Regions from separate parts of the Homo sapiens genome. Here regions 1 and 3 are each linked to region 2. Evidence: fine-mapped expression QTL. A gene starts in region 2. Each other region holds a variant in brackets. All regions are shown on one strand. Distances are between the middles of the regions.

Region 1 (10,535 bases), 250 kb before region 2:
CAATTCTACTCCTAGTTATATACCCACGAGAAGTGAAAGCATACATCCATACAAAACATATACACAGAAGTCCATAGCAGCATTATTCATAAAAGCAGAAAAACTGAAAACACCACAAATGTCCATCACTTGATGAATGAATAAGCAAAGTATCATGTTTCCATATGATGAAATATTATATGGTGATAAAAAGGAATGAAGTACTAATACATGCTGCAACATGGGTGAACCTCGACAACACACTCAGTGAAAGGAGACAGTCACAAAGGACCACGTATTGTATGATTCCATTTATGGAAAATCTCAAGAACAGGCAAATCTAGAGACAAAAAGCAAATTAATGGTTGTCAGGGGCTCAGAGTAGCATTGGTGGAGGAGATAAAAAGAGAGTGACTGCCAGTGGCATGGAGTTTCTTTTGGGGAAACAAAAATATTCTAAAATTAGCTAGTGGTGATGGTTGTACAACTCCGTGAATGTACTAAAACCCACTGAACTGTACACTTTAAATGGGTGAATTGTATCACATGTGAATTACATCTCAATAGAGAGGGTTTAAACAAATGATGCTATACCTTGAGTTTACAGAGCAAAATGTCCCTACATAACTTTGTGTTTCCATGTTTGACCACTTAGCAGGAAGGCCTCTCAAGTTAATGAACACATTTCCGGCTCTCGCAAGACAGTCTTACTGATTGCTATGAGACTAAAATTCCACATGAACAGAACCATAGTGTCTGGATGACCTTGATGAGCAAGAGAATTATAAATACAAGTTAGAAAATTTTCAAAAAAGAAGGAAGGAAAAGAAGTTAAAGTGGGAATAGGGTGTTACCACTGTGCTAGAAAAAATAAAAAGAGAGAAACAAACAAACAAAAAAATGGGTGAAAAGTTGTTTTTAGTAGAACCTCTTTAAACAAGGGGAATGCTTTCAACAGTCCCAAGCAAATTTCAGTGTCACATGGTTAAGGCCAAAATATCCCAAAATAAGATGAATAAGATAAGATTATGGCCCTGTTGCTATGACTTCATTATGTGGAATATAGATATTGGGCCTGTGTCACTGGCAGACATTATTTATATATATATATATATATATATATATATATATATATATAAAATATACAAATATATATGAAATATATAAACATTTATTTATATGTTTACGTTAGATTTATATATGCATATATAATAAACATAAATATATAAACAAATGAACATATATTTATAGGAAGATAACTTTATTTTGGTATAATTGATACAGCATAAAATTTATGCATTTTATGTGTACAATTCAATGATATTTTAGTAAATGTACCAAATTGTGTAACCATAACTATTAATTCAGTTTTGCAACATTTTTATCAAATTATATAGACAGTCCTGGTGGCTGCTCAGATATGTTTTTGCTTTTGATTTTAGAAAGTCGAGTTTCTTAGAAGTCTGGTGTCTAGTTCAGTGGGATGTTTATGTCTTAACTACAAATGGGTGCTTGGTCAGATCACTGAATCCTGAACAACTAGCAAAAAATAAAAAGGTGTTTCCCCTCATTTATTAGATTTTGAACTTTCTAAGAGGTGGCCTAGAAAGGAAAAAATATATATATACCATTACTAACGTATTTCAAGTTTGATTGTATAATATTGATTTTAATCCTTCATTTGTAAATAAGTACTTTTTGATTCTCTTATTAACTCATACTCTAAAACAACTTCATTGAGATGTAATTTACATTCTATAAACTTCACCTGTAAACTTACTGCGTTGGATAACCATCACCACAATCCAATTTGAGAACATTTTTGTCACTTCAATAACATCCCTGGGGCTCACTGACAGTCACTCTCCTTTCCCAACCACAGCCCCAGGAAACCACTAATCTATTTTCTGTTCCTATGGATTTCTGGAAGGCATTACACTTTCACACACAGATAGAAAAAGATATATCAAAAATATATCTCTCCTTTAAGAAAATCCTATCTCTACCCCAGAATTTCAGTGTTTGTGATGTTTAAAATTTTTAAGTAATAAATAAAAGTTGCCACAAATGCTATGAAAAACAGTCCCCCAAATGAGAAGTTTCTCCACCATAATATACATTTTAAAGTTTATAATAACCAATTAATAGACAGCACTTTAACACCATGTGATATTTTCCTGATTAAAGCCAAAAGCTACTAATTCTACCCTGCTCCATGACTAACCAGCCTCCCACCAAAAACAAAAATCCAAAACACTTTAGAACACATATTGTTCATTTTATTTGCAGACAAAACTCCTGGACTACTGGTCTCCTTCAAATTTGGATCATAAGCTGAATTAAGCAAGGGAAACTTCCCAAAATGACATCCTATTCTGCAGCTTTTTAGAGCTACAGAAACTTTTCTAGACATTAAATTCTCTTTAAAGATAATCCGGAATTATGTTAGACTAGTTTAAAAACCATCACTTTTCATAGCAACATGATTATATTGTGGGCATTTCCAAGTTAATTATAGATCTGTCATTTTAAGGAATAATCATTAATTGAGATCTTTTCATTGAATTAATGAAGGGATATTGTACAGCTGCAACAAAATAACCCTTTTCCCCTTAACCATCAATGGAGAGAATTCGTACCATGGTAATTTGGAAGCTACCACCATCATGTATGCATATATCATAGTTCTCAAGAAAATATTGTTCCCGAATTGTCTTTTCCTACTAAAGAAATAACCCTTGGTCAATGTGACAAATATATGACATTGAGTCATTTCCACATAACTCTCCAGCAGACCACATCTGTGAAGCTAGATAAATCCTGTTTCAATTTGGATTGCCATAAAACACAACACTCTTTTCAGGCCAGTCCATGGACTTCTGATAGCAGCCTTCACAGGCCACAGGTTGCCACTTTCCAAGTCTAGGATGCTGTGGCTCTCACAAGGGTGCTGACCCGGTTTCTATTTTCAACTGGAATTTCCTCCTCTGGGGTCATTTGATTTCCACCCTCAGAGACATTTTCCTGGTTCTCTGTTCTGTGCCCCGACCTACTCGTTGCTTCAAAACCAAAAAGAATTCCAGGTTCATCCTCCTGCACAGTCCAGTGAGACAAAGACTCGTGGACATTATGCTTTCAATCTGGTGGAAGCCATGGTTTTTTGAACCTCAGTGAGACCCTCTTAGAAGACACCAAGGTGACATTTACTCAGGAAGCTGCTGAGCTCTAAGACAAGACCTGCAGGAAATGATAGCGGGAGGCCATGGTGTAGAGCTAAAGCTGTTAAGACGTCTTCATTCAAAGGGTCACAAGAATGTGGAAGAGTCAGCCAAAAGAAACATCACAAAGTGTAAGACAGGGCTACTTCCTTTGGCACAACACTGGCTGCATTGGCAGGACCCAGAGATGGCTCACCCCCAGCTCTTGTGGCTGAGCGCTCAGCAAGCCACACGGAGTTTAAAGAACAGGAGACTGGTGTTTTTAGAGTCAGCTCCTGGAGGCCCTTTATGTTCTTGCCTCTGAGGGAGTTCTGGATACAGTAACATAAAAATCTCAGATACATCCACAAGAAGAACTAGCATTTTAAACCCATGAGTAAATGACACTTTTCTGAGTTTAAGTCTCCCTTTCGCACTGGTAAGAATGGCAATGTTTATGAAAATTATTCTGCCTAGAATAATTGCAAAATAAACCATGAAACATATACTATTTTTAACTTAAAATTTTTAAAGCATTTTCCAGTGATGTAGAGATTGGACAAGGCAAATAGTTTTCAGACACTATACTTGCAGATGCATCTTCTTATTCAAGAGGAAGCCTTAGAGTAAAAATTGGAGACTAACCTTTTAAAAAAATGTTTCCCTTAGCGCTATACACATACCCAGTTCTGCACATATACTGGTGAATCAATGAATGTTCACTGACATTTTGCCCTTATCTGAAATATACCCACCACTCCCCTCCATACCAACAATATGTGTCCCTTTCTTTTGCCTTCATACTGATGTAACGTAGACCTATCTACAGTGTCTGTGGTAATTTGAGACATAGCATTAGACTAGAGATAGGCAAACTTTTTCTGTAAATGGCCAAAGAGTAAACATTTTAGGCTTTGCAAGCCATGCAGTTCATTGCAACCAACCACTGAACTCTGCTATCATAGTGTGAAAGCAGCCAAAGACAATATGTCAATAAATGCACATGGCTGTGTTCTAATAAAACTTTATTTATGAACACTAAAATCTGTATTTCATAAAATGTTCACATGGCATAAGATATTCTTCTTTTGGTATTTTTTTCAACCATCTAAAAATGTAAAACTGATTCTTAGCTCATAGGAGACACAAAAGCAGGCAGTTGTCTGGATTTGGCCTGTGGGTCATAGTTTGTTGACCCCTGATTTAAGAACTGAGCTACCGTAATATGGCAGACAGTCTACTAGATATGATCACGTACAGAGCAAACTGGAAAAAAAAACAGGCCTTGGCAACTGTTCAATCAAGTTGATATAATAGAGGAAGATATGGTGAAGGTGTTCAAACTTCAATGAGACAAGATTCTGTGTGTGTACTTTAAGTGCATTGCTTTTAATGTAGCTTATCCATTTACATGTCAAAATTGATCAAATTAATAATTTAATTGCCAAACGTTGCCTCTGGTGTGTTTGGCCTAAAGGATTAATATATTTTTCTTTCATTCATAAATCACCTCATCCTTAATTTCTTCTAGGTTTTGAAACAGTAGCTAAATTCAGAAATCTTTTAAAAGTGATACTAGTAAAAAGAAGCAGATAAAAAATCTCCAGGGAGATGTTGGTCAAGGATACAAAATTTTAGTTAGGCAGGAGGAGTAAGTTCATATTCCTTGTTCAACATGGTGACTATAGTTAATAACAATGTATTATATACTTCAAAACTGCTAAGACAATAGATTTTAAGTGTTCTCACCACAAAAAATAAGTATGTGAAGTAATGCATATGTTGATTATCTCAATTTAGCCATTCCACAATGCATACATATTTCAAAACATATTGTACATCATAAATATATTTAATTTTTAATTGTCAATTAAAAATAAATTTTAAAAAGTATCCAGGGAGGTGATTCTGAATGGTTTCTTTTTGATAGTTTGAGGAACCAGAGCTGCTACACACAAGGAAACAGGGACGAGTGTCGCAATTCTGTTTAAATGTTAATATCATTCAGTCTATTTCTATATTCCCTTAATGTCTACTCAGTCTTTCTCCAATCACTGTGGATTTATGGGAACTGATATCAGTGAGAGAACCTCAAAACCCTGCTTTTGTCATTTAATTGGGTCATGATGACATAGATATTGACATCCATGACAGAAAGAACTCACTGACGAAACAGAAAAAGAAAATCAGGATAGATTTGTACCTTCTTAAAAGTATTGGCATTCTCAGGATAAACTGATTAAACACTGAGGTAAAGTGAATCAATTCCCCCATCTCTTCATCCCTCGTTGCTTCACATCCTTACCACAGCCCCATCATGGAAGGAGTGCATTTCCCCACACACTGAAGTTAGGCTTTTACATGTGACTTGCTGTGGCCAGTAGCAGGTGGGTGGAGACAATAGT[G/A]TGTCAAATTCCTGCCTACGTCTCAAGAGTCTTCAGTTGATCCCACTTGCCATCTTGTGCCTTTGTCATTGCTGAACTTCTTTGGGTAGATGCTGCCAGCCTGGGCCCCAGGATAGATACACATGGGACAGAATTGACAGAAGAGCCTTGACACTTTGGCCTCTGGTCAAACAGCTGAGCTCTGTCTAGCTAAGCCAACCCTAACCGACCCACAGATCCACTAGGATCCGTGATGGTTTTTTTATGCCACTGAATGTCAGAGTAGCTTGTCACACAGCATTAGTGTGGTGATAGCTAACTGATACAAACACACTTCTACATTTTAGACAACACAGCTATAAGGTAAAGTACGATTTTGTGTGTCTATGTGCATATATGTATGCATGCTAGGAGTTCTATATTTCATTCCTTTCTAATGACGCCTTAAATAAAAATGTGCCCTCCCCCACCTGCGGCAGCACAGAAATATCATGGAAGGCCTCATTCTCAAACCAAGTTTCCTCTTAGACTCACTACATGAGCCTTTGATCCTTTACAGATGTTTGCAATGGGTGATACAAAGTATCTGCGTGGTAATGGTGACATTACCTGTCTAATTTTAATGCAATTAAATTGCATTAAAAGCAAGAGTTGGGCTCAGTATGACTACATTTAAAAAATGTTCTTCCTTTCTAATAAATATCAAGTCATAATCATATGGTAAAACTGAAATATGTGAAGTATCTAGTAAGTTTGCCTATGTTTGCAGAATCAGACAGCATCAGCAGTTTGGACACCTTTTTTAAAATAGTGAGCACCAAATAAATGCAGGAAGTCTTTCTAACTGTGTCCCGATGATAAGGTTTCACTCTTCAGCAATCCTGAATAAAAACAGCTATTAAGGATTTTTTGAACCAGTTCATCATGATAAGGTTCAAACCTTTCCCCAAGAGAGGTCTACGAACGGCCACTCCCTTTGAAATGGATGAATAAAAATGCATGTGTGCCATGAATGCCAAGGTTTACGTAACTGTTGTGCTGCCCAGAGCCCAGCTCGGTCATGGCTACCTCAAATCCATGCAGGACTCGTGTTTATCCTTGTTCGTAAATACTTTTGGAAAACCCTGACAAGGGCAGAGTGCCAGCTCTCATGTACCTTTTCCAGGCTGCTGCAAGTTCAGTCACGCGGTTGTCGGTCCAGAAATGGATGTGCCGTTAGAACAGCCATGCAAAGAGGGAGTGTGCCGCATTTACGCAGGAGATAAACTCTGCCGTGTTTCAATCAAAAGCAGTTTGCTAGTGAAAACACAGGTGTTGGAATTATAAAATTACCACAACCCTCAAACCCTCAACTAAAAATAACAAACAGGATGTTCTTTATATGGGTGTGTACATATATATATATATATATATATATATATATATATATATATATATATACACATACATATATATGCATTGCTGACAACAAGGACACACCAAAATCCTCTCTGATCTCCCTATCAATTCACCATACTTTCTTCTGTTATGTTTATGGATGCTTTGGGTGTAAATAATCAATGGAGACAGGAATGTTTCCACCGTGCAGCAAGAACAGGAGGAAGAATTTAAAATGTGTCATCTTATGGAGACAGTTCAGTGGTAGCCCAGATTCAGGATGAGGGCAGGAGTAGGGTGGATGTGAATACAAAGGGGTAGCATGGGGGGAGTGCTTTTGCGGTGATGGACCAGCTGTGTATTTTGAATGCGGTAGTGGATATGCCAGTCTGTACAGGTAATAAAATTGCACAGAACTGCACGCATATATACATACATAAAAGAATGCATGTAAAAACCTGGTAAAATGAGAATCTGTAGTCTAGTTAATAGGATTGTCCCAATGTCAGCTTCATGGTTTTGATATTGTGTAAATAAGATGCTACCATTGAGAGAAGCTAGATAAGGGGTACATGGGACCTCTCAGTACTATTTTTGCAAGTTCTTATAAGTCTTCAATTATTACAAAATGAAAGGCTTTAAAAAGTATTACCTCAAAGGTATCACCTTAAGCCAATGGCATGTCAACAATCACCCACTGCACAGTGATTCAAGCATGCAGACTTGGCAATCAAATTAAGAGACAAGGATTTGAGTCCCAGCCCCACTACGTACTAGCTGTGTGGCCCTGAAACAGACATAAGGTCAGAGCTTTGGTTTCCTCATCTTTTAAATGAGGATAATAGGACCTATCTCACAGGGTTATTTTAAGGATTAAGTGAGATAATATATGTAGAATAAGCAGGACTCATAGAGAGCATTCAATAAATATTGGCTATTATTATTACTCTAAGTCAGACTAAATATTTCTGAGAGCTTTAAATCACTGATTAATTTCATTGACACTCAAGTACATACTAAGCATCAGGCACATGCTATAAATGGCCAAGCATTGAGTCACACACAATATAGTCCCTGGTTCTGGTCTGCGTCCTTTTGGATTTTCTGGTTCTGTTGTGAATATGGTCTCCAAAGAAGCAGGATGAATATTTATGAAAGTGGGTGCACAGAAGACTCAAGGAGGAACTAACTTAAGAATAAGAGGTACTTTCTGCAGTCCAGGTTGAAATGAGAGTTTTCTCTCTGCTAAAATTTACTGGGGTACAGGGCGGTTTAACTGCAATACTTAGCTGCAACCATTCCTTGACCAGCAGAGATAAATGAAAATTGCCTTTCAGTCAAGCACAGGTTAGACCATTTGTGTTGATGTGCAATTTTAAGAGTTAAAACCCTTTACCCATCAACCAGAAAAAAAGCCAAACCAAATCTTCCTTTTTCTTTGTTTGGCAAGGAAATTACATTAGACTATCCTAATGGGCTTAGAGGGAAAAAAAATCTAATTGTAGTCTATATTAATACATTTACATATTTTGAATTATATTAATAAATACTAATAAATTTAGACCAGGGCACTTTAAAGTAATGAACTTTCCAATATTAGATTAATGACAAAATATACGTAGAATATATCACTCTCTACTAAATGCTTTAATAGGTTTGTGATATAAAAATCCTTAAAAGCAAGCACACCACGTATGGATGGAGCTGGCATAGCACCTGAGTACTTTAAATGTGGTAGTCAAAATAATCTACAGTGTGGAAGAAAGAGACATTTGAAGCAATTTGGGAGACTTCTATATACTTAGGAATTTAAGGTCTTTCATAAATGTAAGCAAACCCCAAACAAGACTGAAAATGCTTGTAATGATATTTTATGTTTGTCAACACCGACCCCCCCTCCCGCCAGCCCTCAACAAAAATAGGAAATAAAATGTTCTGCCCTTCTCTGTGCTGGTCTCACTGGATTGGCTGGGCTTGGGCCCAGAAGGAGATGGAGAACAGGGAGACCAAGAAGTCAGAGTATTTACTGTTCCAGTCTATCCCTGCTTCTCTGTATTTTGCCCTTGCTGGAGTCTTCTCTGGACACATTGCCAGGGTCCCTTCCAGCCAAGGCTGCAAGTCAGTGGGCTCTGGTAACGCTGGTCCCTCCCTGGTAACAGCTTCTCAGTGTTGCTAATTGCTGGGTGCTTCACCACTCACCGTTGGTTCCTTTAAACCTGTCAACACATTGGCGTAGTTCATTCCTCAAATTAAGCCTTTTGAGTGATTTATCTGTTTCCTGTTTGGATCCTGATCGACACAAAGCCCTTGACTGTGAATCAGTAGCTAATGTGGGAGGATGCCTTAACTTTTGAGATAAAAGTTAAGACCGTGTTTTGCATTTTGCTCAGACCATCGAAATGGCATCTTAACATGAATGGAACTGTTGAAAGTCATGTGCATAGATACCCACAGAAATAATACTATGTGTTATGTTACCATTTTCAAATCATTCTAGCAAACTCAATGTTCCATACCCTTGCTAATCTATTATTCATCTGTGGGTCTAATTAACATGGCATCACCAAGCTAGGAACCTAGAGCAATGTCCAGGGATTTGTGCCCATGTGGAGAGGCACCCACCTGGCACAGAGATGCTTGGCAAATATGGAGCCCACGTGCTCCACAAAGTGCTGAGATGCTTTTAGCCTCTGTATTGCACTTGGACTGGCTTATACATTTCTTTACCAGATATTTCAGTCAACTGCAGAAAGGGGTCATTCAAAAATATGTTAAAAGTTTATTCATCTAAACTACTTCTGTTGCTGTTGCCATGGCAACTTTTCTCTAAAGCCACAACTCCAAATTCTTCTAAAATTGTTATTTCAGAAATCTAATTTAGCTGACATCCCAAACACTCAAATTTTACTATAAGATTTTTTTTTATGTTAGAAAAGTTCTAAGAAAATGACAAGTATCCGAAGAGAAGAGGAGAACAAGCCTGACAGGTTTTCATTTGAAAGAGTCATGGCATCTTTCAAGGAAATTGGAAGTGGAAGAGTCTTCAGTAACAGTAACTGTATTTGAATGAAAAAATTTGGCTTATATTTTGTATATGTTTCTTGTATTGAAAAGTATCCCATATTCACATCCAAGTAGTCACCACAAAGATAGTGAAAGCAGTACCACATAATGACTGGTGGGAGTCCTTGTTGCATCACTGGATCTACCTTTACGTTTTTAAGTATTCAGGGTATATTTAAGAATAAAATAAATCAGAAAAATTGGTCTTTTGAAAATAAGGTTAGAATGAGAAAACCTGAGAACAGAAAGTACATTAAAAGATATTAAATTAATTAATTGTGTTTGTAAACAGTGGTCTCAGTCCAAAATGTGGCAAGCACCCAAGACCGTTAAATCTATCCCCACCCTCCCCATCATCTCGTAACTCACAATCTAAAACAGACCATGCTAATGGACATGCAGTGACATGGCCAGGAGTTAAGAACGGGCTCTGCAATTCAATGGGAGAACAGGTAGGCCACAAACCCGCCTGCCACCCTGGGCTGCTCAGGAGATTTTGAACCCTGATGTGATTGAGAGAGAAACGCTGGGAGCC
Region 2 (10,535 bases):
GAGCTCTTTAGCCTCTCTGCATTCCTAGTACCTACAGAAATGCGTATGCTCAAGAAATGCTTGTGCCATGAATGAAGAAAAGTATAGACGCCAGTGATATATAGAAATCATTTTAATTATGGGTTGCAAAAGTTGGCAAACTCCAGGTTAGCTATGGACATAATCCCAGCTCTGATCCACAAGAATTAGGAGAAGCTCAGGATTGAAATGAGACTTTATTCCTTTGCCTGTGATCAGAGTCAGGGGCAGAGCTTGGCTGCTAAGAACACAAGTTGAGAAACACGTTCCAACTGTGTTACCACGTACCATTTACCCTTTGTCTCCTCCATGTTTCTACTCAATAGATGATCTACCCAGCATGTCCAGGAATCAGATTTTGTTAAAGCAATCCTGAAACACGTAGTGAGGAAATGCTAACAAGATCGTAGCTGACTTTGCCTAACACTTCCCAGGTTTAGGCCATAAAATGGTCATTTGTAAGCTTTGAACGAGCACAAGTAACAAAGCTGCAGGCATTTGTGAGAGTCTTGGGAGCAGGGGCTGTTGTATGGACAATTTACGTTAAAAGCAGACAAGATTCTGAAAGAACAAAGTGGGAAATGGATGAGATCCATCAATGGCTAAACCTGAAGGTGAATTCTTAGGATTTCATATGGATTCAATGGAAGAGAAATAGAAAATTTGAACAGACTGTAAGGGGTACATGACTCCAGAGGGATCCTCGTGGTTTTGGAATCAAACGAAGGCGCCAACAAAGTTTAGGCCAGCTGTAAACACTTCTGTGGGCACTCTCTTGATGGCCAGCATGGGGTACTATGGGCAACCTCACTAACGCAGCAGTTCTCAGTTAGGGCGATTTTGATCCCCAGAGGATATTCAGCAGTGTCTAGAGACATTGTTTGTTGTCACACTGGTCTGGAGGAGTGCTACTCGCATCTAGTGGGAAGAGGCCAGGGGTGCTGCTAAATACCCCGCAATACCCAGGACAGCTCTGTAGCAAAGAATCATTCAGCTTCAAATGTCAATAGTGCCAAGGCTGAGAAACCCTGAGCCAGAGCAACCAGAAAAGTTCAAGAACCAAATCTATATGAACCAGATATTCCCTCCAGGGCCTCTAAGCAGCCTTGCAAGATGCTCATTGGCTGACATTTTGATGTCATTAGTAAAGACTCTCCTTTAAGGACCAAAGACTCAGCTTGCCTGCAAGTGAAAAGGACAGGCAGTGCCCAATAGGATACATTTTCTTGGTTTTTCAGAGGGTTCCAGGGCGTTAAACCTTTGAAAGGTAATCCAGGCCATTAAATTAGAGATCCAAGGGTTATGTTAGGATATCTTGGCCTTTATTAAACAAAACCAGGGTTGGAGCTACATGCTAGAGTTCTATCCAATCACTCCATGCCTGCCTCAAGCATAAAGGAATTTCCAACACACACACACACACATACACACATATTCTATGAGAAAATTCTGGCTTTTTGCTAGATGGCTACATCCTTAGTTTTAACCACCATGAAAAGGTAAAAATCATGGTAGATGAGTTTTGTGCAGACTGCCCACTGTATGGAATAGAAGCCACCCAGTATCACTGCAGTTCAGATCCTTGTCCATTAATTATGAGATGCTAATGGATAAGAAGATAATTTGCAACAAGTGAAATCATCTACAGCCACATGCCTTTTGGTCATAACAGTAATGAGCAGCATCTGTATACTATATTCCAAGTATGTATATGGTTGCTAAGAAAAGCAGAAATGTTCTTAATGATGCAATTAGTTTTAAGCACGAATGTTAGCTAGCTAATCCAAAATGCTGGCTTGCTTTTGTATTTCTCTTTCTCTCAACTTGTACAGATTAATCTGATAATGTGTGCTTCTGAAATACAATGAGAATCCAGCCCCTCCTAAAGACCAAGAGAAATTCAACATTTCAATTTTTGATGCTCTTTCTAATCTTGAGTTCCCTGGTTTGGAGGTAACATCTTGCCCTCTGCCTCGACTTTCCTTTCTACTGCCTATCTTTCTCAAGAAAATGGGCAAAAGACCTAGCAAAATTTGTTAGTTTTTTGTAATCTGCACCCCCAACACCTAACAGCCTCAGTTACTTTGACACAGTAACTAACATTAATAATATGTGATGCTAATAATTCTGATAAATGATGCTTATTTTTCTAAGGCGGTTTACTAAAGCCAAAGTCTAACAGTTATCTCACATTAACACAGCTGAGTATGATCTCAGATGCTATTTTCAAACGGTTTTCCTTGGTTGTGTATTTAGCCTAAATCTCCAGCAATTACATGGTATTTCATTTCATTTCTGTAATGCTAACTGTACTTTAAAATATTAAATTACAACTGATGGAATCTCCCTTCCCTTATGGAAACAGATCCAAGGCAAACCTATAGAGTTTGTGGACCGAAGGGGATAGGGGCTGTTCATTTTTAAAACAATTACTATTCTCTGAAAGTGTGTTATTTTCAAAGCGCCCATCAGTGACAGTTTCCCAATAGGTCAATTCACTATTTTTCTTAACTGGACAGCAAATATTTTAAGGGTATCTGATAGCTCCCTCTGAGTCCCCTATGTATTGTTGATTCTTCACTAAACTACTAATTGTTCTAAATGGAATTTAGGCATCAGCATATTTCCATGATCTTTCACACCCCTACACAGAGATTTTCTTCTTCTCCTAGGTTAAACTAATACTCAGTACCATAGATTTCTGAAATTGCCCCTTCAGGGAAAGAAAAGGTGAAAACTAGAGAATTCTTGTCCCCCCTGCCACCCAAACACACACACACACTCACTCATACAGTCAATGACACCCTCCAAAATAATGTTTCTGAATTCTCTACAGAACAAGATGGCAGACATATTTCAAAATATATTTCATCCAATCGTTACAAACAGCTTAGCAATAGATATTTGAGTTGGAAAAAATATCAACATTGGGTGAAGGGATAAGGTGACCCTTTGAAATTGCCTGCAGCACTAACAGAAAACCAGAACACCATCTCTTTCTCCAGCTCCCACGACTGCTCCAAAGTAGAGCCAACAAGTCCTACAAGACGCACAAGCGGGTGGCCACTAGGGACATCCCATTTCCAGGCACCATTTAGCAAGTAGAAGAGGAAAACCCACACCACGGAAACCCCTTAGTGGGTGCCTTGCTCTGTAAATGTAATGGAATTAAAGGCGGTCTCCTGAAACTGCCTGGGGGCCTCCTCCTTGGGCCGTGGGACGCGCAGCGCTGGTCCCTACCTCGGATTTCCACACGACGTAGGGGTGCCCGCGACTGTCGGGTGGGGACTGGAACTTCCTCTGCTGGAGCCACCTCCTAGGAGAAGCGAAGATGCCATTGGGGCCTCCCCCGGATGAACAGAGGATGCTGGAAGCGCTTCGGCTACTGGCTGGCCCGGCCAGGACAGAAGGCAGGTCCCAGGCCATGCTCTTCTTGAGGCCGCCGCGACCCAGGGGAACCTCATAGTCAAAGTGAAAGCTGCCGGATGGTGACTTCTCCTGCGGGGTGCTGGGTGTGGAGAAGGACGAGCAAAGAGGTCCAGGAGGCGGTAGCCTGGTGGCCCTGGGGGGCGGACCCCGGGAAGAGGACGCCAAGCGAGGGCCGAGACTCTCGGCTGGGAGTGATGGGGAGTAGAGGCGGCCCGCCGTGGCTCCCCGCGCACTGCCCTCCGCGCCCGCCTCGTCGCTCCCGCAGCCGCCGATCAGGGCCGGGTCCAGGCTGCGGGTCTGGCGCAGCTTCCTCTTGGAGAAGCCCTTGGCCGAGGCCGCGCTACTTGAAGCGGGCGAGGAACAGGAGAAGACGCTGTGGAGCAGGCTCTGCGCGGACATCTCGGCGGGGCTGCACCTGAGGACCACCTCCTCCTCCCTCCCTGGACGCTGGTGGCTTTGGGTCGGGAACCGAAAGGGACTCAGGCAAAGGTGCCAGGCGGGGCTGGCCCGGGGTTTGCCCAGGGCAGTGGAGAGCAAAGCCCAGCTCACGCGCCGCCGGTGCGCTCCAAGTGCCCCGGCGGCGGCAGGAGCAGCAGATCCATCACCAGCCTTCTAGGAAAATGGGTCTGGGGACCTCCTGCAGCCGCTAGAACCTTCCTCCGGAGCCCAAGACGCGAAGAGGGTCAGGAAGAGGAGGAGGAAGGTCAGGCGCTCGCTGGGTTCCCAGCTCCAGCCTGCCAGCGCCACTCCCCCTTCCTAGCTGAGGCGGGAGACGCAGCGCTCCTGCTCGCTGGCTCTGGATGGCCTCTAAGACTCCAGCAAGCTCCTCCTTGCGGCCCGAGGACAGTCCCGAGGGCCAGGGAGAAGGCTGCCTGGGCGTGCGCCCAGGGCGCGTCCACCGCGCTCCCGGCGCCGCGAGAACTTCCTCCCGCTCCTGAGCCGGGCGCCTGAGCTGCGCCTCCCTGCACTCTCTCCTTGCCCCGGCGCCCGAGGTTGCGCGCCTGGCCTCCGCTGGGCTGCTGCGCCCACTCTTCCGACTGCAGAGGCTCAAGGGTTGTTCCAAGCTCAAGGTTCCCGCGGGGTCTCTGTCTTGCTGCAGTGTGGGGACACCGAGCGTGCTGCGCCCGGGACCTCCAAAGACTGCGTGCCCACGGTGGGATGGAATTCCCGGCGGCGCTCAGCGCTCTCCGTGGAGGAGGGAGCTCAGGAGACAGCCCCAAGGCCGGGTGTGTGTGTTCCGCCGGAGAGGAACACGCTATTCGCAGCCCAGCCTTGGGCCCAGGGCAGACGCGGAGATGACCCCGTACGCTCGCTCTAGAGGCAGCGGGAAGGGGGCGGCCAGGACGTGTAGAGCTGGAGGAATGCCGGGGCTGGAGCTGGGGCGGAGCCAGGAGCAGGAGAAAGCAGAACGTGAAGAGTTTTCCAGGCGCCAAACCTGCAAGCGGCGAGGAGAGAAGGCAGCTCGCCACTGATACCGGGTCTCCTGGGGAGAAAGTCGTGAGGACGGAAGTGCGGACCTTCTCCCCCGTCTCCCCACCCCCAGATCAAGGGTCGCGCCAGCTCCACTCACGTTTCTGGAAAGGAAGGGAAGTGTCAGATTGCACCCCACCCACTGGTGTCAGATGGGCAGCCGGGGACGATTGCTCTGAAGTTGGAGTTAAATCTCCTGCCTTTTCTCCCCGCGCCCCCCCACCCCGCCCTGTCCCGGCTGTTTTTGTTTTTAAAAAGGAAGGATAGATAGGAAACTGTCTAAAAGCAGTGGCTGCCGATGAATGAGCTGGAGATGGAGACCTACTAAGAAAGTGGAGGGGGAGGAGCCTTTGCCGTGGAAGGGGTCCTGAGCACGTGCGGAAACGTGCTCTAGGAGGAGGGGTGAGTGAGGCCGGGTAGGGGGCAGGCGCCGGGCGCAGCTTCAGCCCAGAGGCTGCAGAGATTGGCGCTCACAAAGCGATCTGTCTCCGCGTCCCGCTCTGGGACGCCTCGGGTCTCAGCGCGGTGGCCACAGTCCTGGGAAGCTGGAGAACGCTGGGGAAATCAATCTTCCCGGCAAGGAGATGAGTCTGAAAGCAGCTTCTCCCGCTGTCGGACCCCTGGAATCTATAAAGCGCAAAGCCTCGCCCTCTTGGAGGGCTTTTTGATGTAACAGTTAAGCTTTGCAATGCAACTTACAACCATCTCAGCAGGGAGCAGACAGAATGTTGGAAATGTCTACTTTGTGTTTGTGTCCTCTTTTATCACTTAGGGATGAAGATAATTTTATATAAATGTAAAGGTGACTCTACCATTTCTTTTATTTTGGAGAAAAAATACAATGAAATTATAAATACAGATGTTGGACACGAACATTCCTCTTGCATATCTACCAGAATTGTCCAAGTTTGATTCTGGAAGACTTCCTTTATTCCCTATGACATATTCAGGGGAAAAGTTAATTTACTTAGACTCTTTGAAAAGCGTGTTTGGTGTTCCTAGGTGTTCAGCTATTTTGGAGGAGGTACGTCATGAAATCTAATTAGGAGAATTCGTTGTCTCCACAAAGGGCGTCGGGCTCCCAGGTCTTGGCTGTACTCGTTTTTTGTAAACGCAGCCGAACAGACTGCACCCTTAGAGATTTTTTTTCCGGTAGCTTTAATGAGCTATCTGCTGTCTGAAGACAGAGTTCGATTCTAGTTTCCCATCCCCCATCGCTGTCCATCTCTTCTCACCCTGAGCTTCTTAAGTATTTTCAGCGGCTGTCAATCAGGTGTGCTGCTGACAGGCACAGTGTTTAAAAAGAGCTCTTGCTCCCCTGCCTAACTACACCCAGGCCAAGTTACATTTGGGGGCTTGTTGGCATTGGCTTTCTTCCCTCCTCATACAAGTCACATTAGAAGTAAAAGTGTGTGGGTCTTGTCTGCCCTTTCTTTAGTAACAAAACTGTAATTTATCACTGGTAATGGAAACACTTAATGTCTCTACCACTGGGATACGAATGCATGGTTATGCCTCATTGCATGGTTATGCCTCAGTGGAGTTTGGCATTCGGGGTAGATGGTTAACAGAGTCACTTCACAGAATCACTTATAACTCAAGGGGGGTGAGCAACTTGATGATTGTATTTGATGATTTATATATTTCTCTAACCCCATATGATAACCATGGGGTAGCAAATGAACCCCTGCCATGACTGTATAGGCTAGTATGAATGCCCCCAGGCACAAGGGCATACATTCTTGCTCATGGGTGTTGGAGAGCCAACCAGCAGAGGGATTCTTCTATTAGCACTCCTAGGGCTTGGAACACACACATGCCAGTTAATTCATCATCTAGTTTCCAAGTGTTCCTGACCCTCCAGGAAACTGGAAACTTGTGTCATTGTTGGGAACAGTGAATAAATTGTTTTAAATATTAATCAAATTAGACTGGGGCTCCTTTTAAAAACTCAGTGTAAGTATGTGTGCTTTTAATACCTGGGGCAGGGGATGTTGATGTTCTTCTAGAAAGACTTTGTAAGAATTTTTTTGGATTTTTTTAAAACTATTTTGATTTTCAACCTGACTGCTATTAGGTTTACCTTGCAGTCATAGTGGCTTATGGTGGATTCATTCATTCCTATTTAAGGCATTCTATTTAACTCTTGTTTGTTATATATTCTCTTTGTTTATATAGACTCAACTCACATTGGCCTTTCTGATCAACTGTCAGGTTATGCCAAATTCAGTTAAGGAAGATCTATGGGTTTTGGTTACCAATTTCAAAAAATGGCTGGTTTTGTTACATTGCTTCCCAGAATCCTTCTTACAATTCATCAGCTAGCTTCAGAAGCATTATAATTGGTAGTCAAGAAATAAATAGTTTTAATGTATATGCTTTCAAAAGCAGGTTTCTAAGACTTTGCTTTGCTTCTCTATTAGGGCATTTGATATTGAAAATAGTGCCTATATTTGTTAATTTTTTCCTCAGAGACAAAGTTAATCAAAGACTTGGGATACCTTTCATTAAAGAGCAGAACATTCTGTTCACTATTCATTCCCAATGATAATTATTGTAGACATCTAGGATTTAAAAAACATCTTATGCTATCTATTCCATCTGGTCATGGCACAAGAATATTCCAATGGAAGTTCTAGAATCCTTGGACTGACATCAAGCTATCCTCTTATCAGAGATCCTAGAAAACTCATCAGTATTCTTTCTATTCCCTTGAGAGACTGTTCTACAAACACACACATCTTACTATCAAAGGATATATTCTGATGCTTAACCTAAATTTCCTTTTCCTTAACTTTATCCCTTGAAGCTTTTCATATCTCCAGCCAAAATTCCTCTTTATCCTTGGTGTTTAGACCCCAAAGCTATTTGTAGATTTTTATCATGCCCTTTGGGTCTGACTCTGTGGTTTGGCTACACTATAAAGTTCATATTTTGCTTTAAAACCATCACTGTAGATGATCTTTTCTGGACTCCCTCCAGTTGCTTTTGTTTTTCAGTCCTGAGGTCCAATATTCCAGGTTAGGGCATCCTATTTTGCTCTTGTTTGTTATATAATCCCATTGCTTAAACAGTCTCAAATCACACTGAACTTTCTGATTGAGTGTCATATAATATTTCAGACTTCTATCTGATTGGCTCCCAACTTTTAGCATTGTTGATTTTCATTTCATCCTGCCCATGTCTCTCAAACTGATCATGATCCCCCGATATCATTTCTATGTTCTTAGTGGGTAAACAGTTCACAGCATCTCACTTGCCCATAAAAGTCCGGGTTCTGTCTCCAAGCTCCTGAAACATGAAAAAGAAGCATCATTTAAATCTGTGTGACATGCATGGAATACATGAGAGATATGTGGAGAAATTTTACAAGGCTTAAGAATGCAAATTGCATTAAATAGCCCAACTTCCCCATGCCTGAACTAAAAATGTTTCTTTAGATTCCTATGCCAGCTGCCAAAGCACTTAAATTACAATCGACAAACGTCAGTGGAGGTAAACCTAGAGTCTTTGAGTACAGGAAATTTTTGTCTTCTATTACATTTATATACCAACAGGCAAGGTTTTTGGCTCAATATTTTGGATCAATTTCACATAGCCCAGAATTGGAACCATGAACCCTCCAGGTACACACTTGAGGTTTTAATATTCCTCTAGTTGATATCCAGACCTGTGAAATTTTTTTTTCTGACGTTATATTCGGAAACCCAAATGACTATTCTTATTCATCTTTCCCAGTTTTTCCCCACTCTGTGTGCCTAATTTTGCCATTTCTCACCAATTGTGACCTTAAAAAATTAAATTCAGTAAAAGAAAACGACTGTATCTGTGTCAGCATCTGCATTGAACACACGAACATCCACTTGCAACATTGTCCATTTTCTCATTTTCTGTGCAAATATTAGCAACATGTTCTATGTTTTCTAGTGTTTAATATTTATCTTCTAGACTTAAAAAAGCAGGAGTTTGGCATAGGCACATTTTCTGCCTTTTCGCTTACATGTTTATTTCTTGAGCAGGTATGAGTACACTATTTTTTTCTTCTTTTTTTTTTTTTTTTAAATACAGTTTCACTCTGTGGCCCAGGCTGGAGGGCAGTGGCGCCATCTTGGCTCACTGCAATCTCCACCTCCCGGGTTCAAGCGATTCTCCTTCCTCAGCCTCCTCAGTAGCTGGGATCACAGGCACCTGCCACCATGCCCGGCTAATTTTTGTATTTTTAGTAGAGATGGGTTTTCACCATGTTGGCCAGCCTGGTCTCAAAGTCCTGGCCTCAAGTGATCCTCCTGCCTCGGCCTCCCAAAGTGCTGGGATTACAGGCATGAGCCACCACGCCTGGTCGGGGTACACTATTTCTAAATGTTAACCATCCTATTTTCACTTGCCCAAGTTAGCAGGGCAAGTGAAAAACAAGGCTGTATAAGAATCTTAAACCAAGTTGCAGTGTAGATGTGCTCAGCAGGATCACAGGGGCAACTCCTGAACCAAACAGTGGTTACTCTACCTGTGGCATGTGAACGAATCTTCCAATATCAAATCCTAAATGTATGACCATCATCCCTTTTGCTTTAGGCTTTGAATCTTGATCTCAGGAGACTTTTAGAAATATAAATTGGCTGAAAGCCAAATTCAGTTTTGGTTGATAAACATTTTTGAACACACACTGTGTGCTAGTGGCATTCTTTGTTCTATCTTTGTGGTGAAAGTGTACTTAGAATCTCAAAATAAGTTAAATTTATCTGAACCTGGTATATAATTCAGCTGTACTAGCTACTTAAACTAATTTTTAAAATCTTCTGTAGCATATGTCTCAGAACTACTTTTGAGGATGAAGAATTCTGTAATAATGTAAACAATTTTAATAGATACTTTATTAATTACCCTAAATTGTTCATAATCTAAGCATTCATCAATATTTCCCAATTTAAAAAGCAACCAAATAACATGAGGTTTCATTGCCTATGAAATGTTAATTTTTCCCCCGAATCTTCACTTTTCTATATTGAATGGAAACAGGAGGACCTATTTTGCCTAACATGTTTCTCTGGTGACAAGGTAGGATGGGGTATGGAAGGGAAAGAAGAAAATAAAACAACTGGTACTATGCCTAGGGTACATACAGACACATACATATATATTAACATCAACTTTACTGAGAATCTACATACAATAAGCTATATAAATGAATTTTGGCAGTTGTGTATACCCATGAAACCACTACCACGATCAATATACAGAACATTCCTATCACCTCCAGTGTATGCTTTTATTAACGTTCAATGAACATTGACAATTTGAGTTTTGCTATGTTCATGGTTGAGTAGTGCCTTTGGCCAATATAAAAAGGGAAGGAGGGAAGAAGAGCATGAGGGAGGGAGGACAAAATAGAGAACAGAGCTTTTTCAGTTCTTGTAGTGGGTTGAAGTGTGTTCATCTAAAAGGCATATTCAAGTCCTAATCCCTGGTACATGTGAATGGGACCTTATTTGAAAACCGGGTTTTTGCACAAGTAATCAAATTAAGATTAAGTCAGACTGAATTAGATGGGTCCTAAATCCAATAACTAGTGTCTTTATGAGAGAAAGGAGAAGGCAAATGGAATACAGACACATGCGTGT
Region 3 (10,535 bases), 240 kb before region 2:
ACTAGATTACCTCAGAGTCAGCTGAGGTGAAGTATTGTATTGCACTTTCTGAATCTACTTTGCTGCTGAATCCTACATTTTGTAGGGGCTGCTTGAGTAGTAAGTGGTTCACCGTGTAAATTAATCAGTGTTTGCCAAACCCAGCTGATATTGGAACCACCCCCAAAGCTTTTTCAAAGGATTGATTCCAAGTCTGGTCCTTAGAGATTCTCGTTTAGTAAGAATTCAGTGAAACTGGAAAGCTAATTTTTAGTCTCGTCTCTCCCTCTGACCTCAATCATCAACTAATAAAGGGTTAAGTTTGGAAAGTCCTAGCGTAACCTAGGGAAAAATACACAGGCAGCCAGATTCATGTTCTCATAAATATTTATTGTATGCCTACCCTGTGCCAGGACCTGCTCTAAGGCAGTGGAAAGACAGTGGGAAAGGATCATTGGGTCCTTGCCCTGAATAAACTTACACACTAGTCAGAGGAGACAGACAAACAATGAATATATAATATAATACCAAGTGGTGATGTGAACAATGAGGGAAGTGGCTAGTGTGATATGATCCAGGGTAACTGAGTGGGCTCAGAAACACTTCAGAGAAAGCAGTCAGGAAAGGCGACATTTTTCCTGCAATTTGAAGGATGTAAAAAAAAAAAGCCTATCACACAGAGGACATTCCAGGCAGAAGGGACAGCAAGTACAAAGGCTTGGGGCAGAAAAGAACTGGTCGCATTTGAGGAACAGAAAGGGCACAGATGTGGCCAGGCAATGATAAGCTTGTGGAGTGGGGTGTGGTATGAGGCAGAGAAGACCATGTAAGGAGCACTTGGAAGGTCAAGGTCATGGATGAAGCTATTATTCTAAGTGGAATGGAAACCAACCAAAGAGCTTAAGCACTGAAATGTCACTATTTCATTACCTTTTAAAAAGATTGCACTGGCCATAGGGACAGCCAACCACTCACTGAGATGGGAAAGTCTGAGAATGAAACAGGTGACAGGGAAGTGAGGAATCAAGAACCCAATGAAGACTTTGTATGACTGGACAATAATTTCACAACCAAGTTGAGAGTCATGTGTGTGTGGTCCAGGGTTATCACAATGTGGGAACAGGAAAAGTAAATAATAAAAGTTCATCACCAGAAAGGACTAGGCAAAGGGTGGTAATTGTTTTCAAATGATTGGCAGAGATGTCTGCTATGCAACATCCAACAGGAATCTGATTTTTTATCAATTAGTAGTGGTACTTAATGAGTGGTTTGAAGGAGGGGAGATGTAGCTTCCTAAGATGATGGGGCTTCCACACCAAAGAGGCCTCATCCAGGAAAATTTCTGCATGCAGCAGAAAAGTAAGCATGCCAGGTTGGGGGTGGGAGTAGAAAAGGTATCTACAATTAGTAGAGGTGTCAATTAAGAGGATTCAATAATCTCTCACATATTTGTAAGTTGAAAAAATTTTGCTTTTATGAGGAGACAAATGACAACCAGAGTAATATAAAAATGGTTTTATAAAAGTAAGTTCTGGGCCATGCCACAGGTCAGTATAAGTTCTGCTGAGTTTCCTAAGATGTCTACACTGTTAGCACCGATGGATGATAACTGATTCATATCAGCATAGGCCTGCAACGGCGCCCAGTTCTGGGCATCTTCAGAATTACCAGAGAGTATCCTGTATTCAATACCACTCAATTATTAAGCAAACTTAATGACTTCAAAGTCTTTGAAAATTGAATGTTCATAGAGAACAAACGTGGAAACTTTCATAGTTTCCATTCTATGTGAAAACAGGTTCTCTGTCAGGGTAAGCAGCTTGGCACTTCTGGTGAGTTCCTTAGGAAGGGGTTAACTGGAGCAAGGGCAGAGTCAGCATCTGATTACAAGGCTGTGGTCAAAAGCACAGATGGTGCAGTGACCACACCAAACAGGAAGTGACATCAGCAGCAGAGGAGCTCAGACTAGACCAGTACAAGGAAGGAGAATGAGCAGCTTAGGACCTCAAAAACTAGGTCTCAACTACTAGATTCATGAAGTCATTCAACACATTTCTACTGAGCACCTACTGTGCTTCCAGCACTCTGCTAGGTGTCCAGGTGACAGCAGGGACAAGACACACATAGTACTACTCCCAGCAAGTTTTCAACCTGCCAGCGAGAGAGAAATGAATGATGTCAGTCCAGGGATTCCTGATGGTGACTGTATAATGGACACTGATTTGCTTTTCTCTGCCCCACTTGAGGGTAAAGACAGGTTGGGGCACCAGGAGAGAAGAGCTTGAGCCTCCTAAGGTCCCCAGTAAGTCACAAGGCCAAGCTTTTAATCCAGATTTTTTTTAGTGTCTTTCAGAAAGACATAAAGATATTGCATTGAACTTAATGGATACTTAAATTTTTAGTTTTTGTCTACACTAGTCAAATTTAAAAGCTATTTGGCCATGCAATTTGACAATACAGATAGTCACATTAAGTCACTGAAGGTCCAACATTTGGTTGTTGGTTTATTACTGTGGCAAAGTGGATCGCAGAGGGATGATTAGGTTCGACTATCCTCATTGTCTAAATGACTCAGAAGAGCACTGCAGGATCAGGGCACCTGGATAAAGCTCTCAGTTCTGTCAGCAGCGACACATGTGCTGCCTTGAATTCTACTGTTCTGAGCTTAGATTTCTTCAATCAGGAAACAGAAAACCTGCATAAGGCAGCAATTGGATTTCAGACTGAAATTGACCTAGACTGTGTTCAAATATTTTGCAATCTGTATAAGACAGTAACAAGGAGGGAAATATCATTATGACTATTTGCTTATTATATAAACTTCAAGAGCTTCTCTAGAAATGCTGCCAGAAAATCATTGATTCATTCATGTCATCCTCATCCTTCATACTCTATCACCTCTTTATCCCATCCAAACTAAGTCTGACAGGTTCTATGTTCTAAGCATCTCTCCAATATGCCAACTGCTCTCAACCTCCTACCCAGCTGCCACCCTAGCATCAGTCATCTTCTCGAATCTCTCCCAGGCCCAAATACCAGGATGCACTCTAGCTCCTCCTCATCCTCACTCCATACTGGGATCATTTCAAAATGTAAATCTGATTCAGTCACCAAAAGGCATCAAGGACAACACCCAGCTGGAAGGACGGAGTCACCATAATCTGAACGTGGGAAAACTGTAGGAGGAAATTTTTTGAGGAGAACATTAGCTGCTAACACACATTATTTTCTGTGTGTGATGATAAAGCAAGAAGACAGTTGTATTATACTTTGAAAATGTCTGTTTATGTAAATGGAGGATGTTCTTGTCTAGTTAATTGCATTTTGCTCTCTGTGACCATTATGACCATTTAAAAAGATGAGTGAGATGTCCATAGCAACTCCTAACATTTTCACTATCTAACTGTCTCTTTGGAAAATTGACCAAATACCTGGAACACAACAGGCATTCAACAAATGTTTATTGAATGAATCAAATGTGAGCCACTGACCTCTTATATGCAGTCTCACCTTGGACAAACGAAAAAGCACTGAAGGAAGAGCATTACATACTTATCCCCGAATTATATTTCAGAGGAGGCAGGAGGTATTAAGGACACATGGAGGGTCATTCATGTCAAGGAAGACAGACCCAAAAAAAACCCAAGATCACAGGAAAATGCACAGTGGGACAAAACCCTGTTGAGCAAAGTAAGTGGAATATTTGTGCTAAACGGCAAAACAAGCTCTGGAATTATCAAAACCCAAATGAGGGAAGTAAACAAAAGTGCAGCGTTAGAATAGATATTATACCACCAAGGGTTATACTAATATGAAAAACAATGGGTCGCACTTAATAAAGAACATTCTCTGGACACGTGACTGATTCAGAGCTGCTGCTTTCTCATCCTAAAGTATGCATAGGAAACTTCAGAGAGCCCGGGTGACTTATTCCAACCTGGAATCCCAACAAATTCCCTCTGGAATCTTCCTTTTTATAGTCTTAAACCAGAATATACATACATGATAATCTGTACTAGAATAAAGGGCTATTTCATCAGCAGTCTTCAGAGCCCCAAGAGGGGACATTAGCATCGGCTTGACTCTTCAGTTTATGATTTTAGAAGAATCAGACAGCCTAATTAAATGACAATTTTAAAATATTTTTGTAATATATTTACATAATTGAGGCAATAACCATTCATTGAATGAATAGATTTTTTTAAAATTAAGGAGCCCGTTCTCACCTTTCCTCCCCCACCCGCACTCTTGCAAATGGCAAAGACCTCAGATCATGAATCAAAGGGTACCAGCACACAGTTCAAAAAGGTGGTGGGGTGGAGATGTTGAATGGGCACAATGAGCACAGACTCTACTTCCTTCAGTGTAAAGCAACCTCTGTTGAAAAGTGGTTACCCTTTAAACTACTTTAAAAGGCAAATCACTGAGCCACCGGTGTCTCCAAGACAGATGAACGAGCATTAGTAACTTACAAGTATCTCATTTGGTGTTTCAAGACAAGTAACTATAGAAAAACCAGAGAAAGAGCTGTTACAGGTTCCTGGAACGTTTGCCTGGGAAGGTATCTTAACAATTTCCTAATTCAGGTCTTCATTTTTCCAGTGGAGGAAAGCGAAGTGTACGAGGTGTGCAATTTGCCCAATGGCCCTGCAATTAATCCAGGAGCCCCGAGGTGACACCAGGAACCAACTGGAGCAGCTCCGGGATGCCTGAGTCCACCACCCCTGTCCACCTCTACTCCTTTCTTCAAAAAAACAATTTTTTTTTTTTTTATGTTGGGGACTGGATTTTGGAAGACACGAATTCCAGACAGTTAACTGTCTTTGCCTGATTATAAATATTAATGATTCTTGTCAACTCTCTGCCTGCTTCTCTCCAATTTTTAAAGTTGGCAGTCAGAACGTCCAGTCTCAACAGTGCAAATCAATTCAAGGAAAACTCAGTAAATTAGCAGATGACAGAACAACTGCAGTGTCTCATCTCAAAACGACACATCTCACACGTGGAAAATCAATGTCTGAAGACTGGAATAAGGTAAACCTTCTCCCTGCCCCCTTCCTGGAGGGGGCATTTGAAATCTTCAGAAGTAGTAGTCATTCCTCAGAAACAACTTTCCTTTTTTCCTTCTTTCCTTTCTTTTCTCTCTCTCAAAGAATATACTCATCTAGTATCTGGATTTGGTCGGTCGTTAACCTTAAAATCTTGACTCCTTCTTCAAAGAAGGCAAATCCCATGAGCTTTCTCTCTGTTGTGTTTCCTGCAGTACCTGCAGCACCTAGCGCAGTCCCTGGCACACAGTAGGTCCCCAGTAAATCTTTGTATCAACAGGGAGAACAGAAGCCACCATAAGGGAGGGGGAAGGTACGACAGAAGAGCCCCTGGTATTCTCTTGTATTAGCGTGCAACATTAATGATAATGTGCAACATTCTGTCCCGCCACAAAGTAGGAGGGAAATGCACTCCCTTTCTAAGGAGTGAAACGGCTGCACCCCAACGCTCCC[G/A]GCAGCATTTCTTCAGCAAATCCACTCGCCGCACACTGAGATCATGAAGCGGCCCTGCCTCCTGTCCAGTCTTATTCTCGTCCTTTCAACATATCTGACTGAAGGCTGAATGAGCGACCTAGGCCTAACCCCAGGAACCCCATTTGTCAGCCTTTGTCAGCGAGGTGGTGGCGGAGTCCAGCCCCGTCCCAGATGCAGTGACCACAGCGTTGGGGCAAAGAAACACTGAATTCAGGGTTGGGGCTCCCCTGTACCTTCTAAAAGATTTCGGGAAGCGCCACTGAGTTAGTGAGCAGGTGGCACTTCGGGGTGACGTACCCGGCCACCCGCCACCCCCTCAGCCGTGGACCTGTGGGGAGCCCCGACTACCATCGCCCCTCGCAGTCCCCACCCGGAGCGGCCCAGTGGCGCCCCCTGTGTCCTCTGCACGCGTCAGGACACTCACCGCGTAGTGCAGCTGGGGCTTCTCGCCGCGGTACACCGGGTGCCCCATGTCGCCTCCGGGAGGAGTGGCGCGCCTTGGGCTCAGCCTGGGGTCACGGTGTCTCTCTGAGTTCCCCGCACTTCACTGCCATCCTGGGGCAGCCCCTGGGCGCGAGCCCTGCTCCGTGCGTGCCGAGTGCTGTGCAAAGCGCCCCTGGCACAGCGTCCCGCTGCCGCTGCGGAGCCGGTGGGGACCTGGAGAAGGCAGCGGCGCGAAGGGGGAGGGGGAAGAGGAGGAGGAGGAGGAGGAGGAGGAGGAGGAGGAGGAGGAGGAGGAGGGAGCGGCCGAGTCTGATGCGATGGGCGGGCGTTTAATTCCTTCCGCTCCTGGCGGGTCCCTCCGGCGGCCGCCGCCGCTGACAGCTGTTGGGGGCTGCGGAGGCCGAACGCGCCCACGACAGGTGTCAGGCTGGCCGGCACGCCTGCCTCCTGCCACCCCACCCTCCCCGGACCCGTGGGACCCCGGCTGCTGAGGCGGGGACTGCCAAAGCCTTTAATGCCAGCGAGAAGGCGAACTTGGGTTTCCAAGAAAGAGAGACTTTCACTAACTTTGAAGGAGGTGTGGGCCTGACAGTGGAAGGAGATTCAGAGCCTTCTCCTGGGAGGGCAGAGTTTCCCTTTCTAGAAAGCCTTCTTCTGTGAGAGTCTCAAATTGTGGGGACCCTTGGGGAGGGCAGGACTGAGAGGAACCAAGTCATGCTACCCAGGAGAACTGCTGCGGGGACAAGGCTGCCCAGGATGCTGGTCACTTAGGGTGACCCGAGTTCCAGGGGGGCTTGCAGGGCACATTCTGTAGGTTCACAATAACCCTTAAAACTGGCCTCTGCTCTGAAATCCCCTCATGGAAACCTGCACTTTAAAACACCTTGGAGAAGATCAGCGAGTTCCCTCCACAGCCTTGTCCTTCTGTAATTTACGTCCAGCCTCCCACAAGTTGAGCCCAGAGGAAGGCCAGGCCTGGGGCCAGAGTAGAGACTCCAGACTCATGAATCAATCAATGCAAGCCCCAGAGGGGTGGCTACAAAGTGGAAGATGTGCTTGGGGGTAGCTTGTGCCAGTTTGTCAGGGTCCCACTGTACTGAACCGGCTGAATGACTCTCCACTTGCTCTGTGTAAGAGGAGAGGGGAGGAGAGGGGAGGAAAGTTGGATGTGGCCCCGGAATTTCAGCCCTTACAATTTAGTTGAATGAACCATCCACTGGCATGTAATATTTTAAAACAATCACAGCATAATTATAATTAGCAGTGGGAATGTGAAGCCAGGGGTGCAAGTGGCCTGAGGAATCTACCATTAGATAGTCCCATGACAGTTTATCCACCTGGAAAACTGGATGGTTATATCTGCTAAAGTCAATCATAGGCCTACCTTCCAATCCAGCAAATTCCACCCCTAGATATACAGAGTACAATAATCTCATCATATACCAGAATGCTCATACTGTGTTGAGGCATAATTGCCCCAAATAAAAGCGATCCAAATGTACACCAACTGATGCATGACAAACCAACTGTAGTCTGTGCACATGATGGAATACTATTCAGCAATAAAAAGGAAAATGCTACTGATGCACAGAACAAATGGATTAATCTCACAAACATTATGTTGGGAGAAAGAAATCAGACACAAGTGTACATACTGTAAGATTTCACTTATTTATTCTGCAACTGAAATTCAAATGTTTAAGTGCAATAGGCAAATGGAATCCATGGTAATAGGTGTCATAACAGTGGTTACCAAAGTGGGAAGGTGGTATTGACTAGGAAGGTGGTACAAGGGAACCTTCTAGGGTGCTGGAAATGATCTATATCTTGATCTGTATGGCAGCTACTAGAGTACACCCATATGTAAACATTCACTGTGCAGTACAGTTCAGACTAGTGTAATTTACACCCTTCACTACATGTATTTTATACTGCAAAAATAAAAAATAAAAATAAAAATAAATTTAAAATCAATCCCTTGCCAAACCCAGGAACTTCCAAACAGTGTTGCCTGTCTTATGAGAAAGTCAATTGAACTATTTGCCCAAGTCTTTCATTCTCCCACAGCCTGATCTACCCAAGTCTCCTTTCTTCTGCTTTGTAGGAGAAATGAGCATGCCCATTGACCTTGGAGGCCTTCCTTGCTCTGTGACATGTCCAGGCAGAGCTCGAAAAATGACACACTAAAGTTCCCTCTTTACTCTCACTCTGTTCTGCTGCTAAAAGCAACCTTTAGAGCAAAGTCATCAAAGATCCTCAGAATAAGACAGAGAACCAGCTTGAGCTTCACCATCTGGCATCTTTCAGAGAATTGCAGCCAGGGCAGCCTGATGGGGGCACGTGTGTACAGATGTAATTCAATGGCCTAGACAAGCCCCAGTTTAGGGACTTTCACTTCACTGTGGTCTATTCATAAAGGTGAACACTCCAGCCTTAGGACTTTTTCTTCCATCACGCTTGCCTTTAAGCCCCTGAAGCTAAAAATCCCTTTCCCTACAAATACTATTTAATTATGAATATATTTAAACAACACAAGGTGGATCCCTGGGTCTTAAAACCTTAACCATAGCCTTTTGATCATTACCCCTGAGTAAGTCACCTCTTAAAACTGGGTCATCCTGGATTTGGTTTGTATTCTTTCTTTCAAAAATGTAGTAAGTCACTAAATGACATTCTTGTAAGCCAAAAATACTCCATCAGCCCCACACTGTGTACTTACATTTTAGGAATGACTTCTGCCTTCTAGCATTATTTATTGCTAAAGTGTCATAGCTAAGTTGGAGTAAAATGTTCAAGTGCAATAGGATTGTTTTTTCTCTGTGTTTGAAGAGTTTGTGAGATTGGGCAAAGCACCTAAAGAAATGATCAGTTCATGCTGCAAGACTCTTAAATCACCTTGGAATGAATCATCCACCTCCTTCAATTCTTAGTCCAATTGTGTAAGGCTCAAAGCTCCAGAAAGGATCTAGAAGATCATGCAGAACTCTAAGAAGTCTGTTCAATCTTAAACAATTTGAATTTCACACATTATTCATTATTTCATTTAAATATATTTCAGGGTATATTTAAAACACCACTCTAATCAAAATTTCTTATTTGCATATCTCTACTTCCAAGTATCCTTCCCATGTTATTTGTTCACTTGGTCATTATTCAACAAATATTATTTTAAATTTTAAATTTTAATTTGTATAAATGTATGGGGTAACAGTGTAATTTCATTACATGGATAGATTGTGTGGTGATGAAGTCAGGGCTTTTAGGGTATCCATCACCAGAAGAATGTACATTGTGCCCATTAAGTAATTCACCATCATCCACCCCACTGCCCTTCTGAGTGTCCATTGTCTATCATTCCACACTTTATAAATATTTTTAAGTGCATACTATGCACAGGTATTGTTCTAGGTCAACTAAACTGTATATTGACATGGCATGTGGTTTTAAAATGCACATTTGATCCTTTGGGGTAATGGAGAGAGATAAAAAGGCAGCAAGAAGCACATAAAACCTCACTTCAGAGGAGGCTGAAGTTCATCCAATTTGTTGGTTAAGAGCCTGCTAGGCTAATGTTCTTTTTTGTTTGTTTTTCTTTTTTAAAAAATAATAAATTTATCTGATGTTTATCATTCACCCCAGAGAGGACTTAAAAATAATCTGTATGAGTTACTCTACTAGCATCACCTTTAAGAGAAAACGTGCCCTGCTAACTGTGGAATTTCCATGTCTTCCTGTCCCTAAACATTACAGCATTTCCAGAACTGAATGCTGCCCTTTCTGCCAGAGCATTTAAATTAAAATACTTGTTTGCATTTATTCTGCCTGCCTATAGGCTGAGTTAAAATTTTCCACAGTTAATGCCAATGCAAGGGTGATTACTTTTTTCAGAAAAACTTTACCCAAATCTGTGGAAGCAAATTCAACTTCAGAGTGTAGGAAGAGCTGAGGGCCCATCTGAGTACTAAAAATCACTTCAGATGGCAGGACAGGCCCTTCTTGAAGGCCCAGCCCCACCATTGTTAACAGAGTTACTATGAGACCCTCTAAGATGGGGAATCCCCTCCCCCAAACCCAGTGCCCACACTATGCCATCCTATTGTCCTGTTAATCTAGCCCCTGGAGTATTTTTAACATTTTGAAATGGAAAAATCAATAGCATATAATGTGCAGCTTAATGAATTGTTACAAAACATTCACCTGTCTAACCTTCACTGAGGTCAAAAATTAAAATATTGCTAGTACCCTAGACCCCCATGTCCCTTGGCTGTATTTCCCTCCTCCATCCCAGTGGTAGACACTGTCATGACTTCACTTCTTCACTTCCCTTTTACAGCAGGGTTTCTCAACCCCAGCACTCTTGACATTTGGGAACCAATCATTCTTTATGGTAGAGGCTGGACATTGCAGAATGTTTTGCATCATCCCCAGCCTCTACCCACTACATGCCAGTATTATTCCCCCTACGCCAATTGTGGCAACCAAAGATGACTCTAGATATTGCAGATGTCCCCCAGGGAGTGGGGAAAGGCATAATCACCCCTGGTTGAAATCCACTGCCTTTTAGGAAGTCAGGCATCCATAAATATTAGA

Alleles and levels. Positions count from the first base shown, and alleles are read on the strand shown. Sizes are in standard deviations (SD) of each study's normalised expression. Not every link is listed here.
With allele G in place of A in region 1, the expression in skeletal muscle of the gene that starts at base 4,938 in region 2 is higher (moderate effect, 0.46 SD a copy in FUSION).

What was found. PIP is the estimated chance that this variant, and not a neighbour inherited with it, causes the effect.
Region 1: its variant is the best candidate, but not a certain one, in a credible set for the expression of ARHGAP6 in skeletal muscle (FUSION, PIP 0.53).
Region 3: its variant is the best candidate, but not a certain one, in a credible set for the expression of ARHGAP6 in whole blood (TOPMed, PIP 0.71).

The regions. Positions count from the first base shown.
Region 1 is chrX:11,410,107-11,420,641 of GRCh38, forward strand. The region is part of intron 1 of ARHGAP6 (Rho GTPase activating protein 6); the gene reads right to left. It overlaps LOC124905246 (a long non-coding RNA gene), which reads left to right and starts at 7,109. Exons shown (of 2, transcript XR_007068392.1): 1 at 7,109-10,535. The variant G/A (reference allele first, on the strand shown) is at 5,582.
Region 2 is chrX:11,660,983-11,671,517 of GRCh38, forward strand. It overlaps ARHGAP6 (Rho GTPase activating protein 6), which reads right to left and starts at 4,938. Exons shown (of 13, transcript NM_013427.3): 1 at 3,259-4,938. The coding sequence starts at 3,846.
Region 3 is chrX:11,421,623-11,432,157 of GRCh38, forward strand. All of the region lies in intron 1 of ARHGAP6 (Rho GTPase activating protein 6), which reads right to left. LOC124905246 (a long non-coding RNA gene) reads left to right here. Exons shown (of 2, transcript XR_007068392.1): 1 at 1-5,013. Among named protein-coding and RNA genes, the nearest start is that of MIR548AX, 110 kb to the left of the region's middle. The variant G/A (reference allele first, on the strand shown) is at 5,481.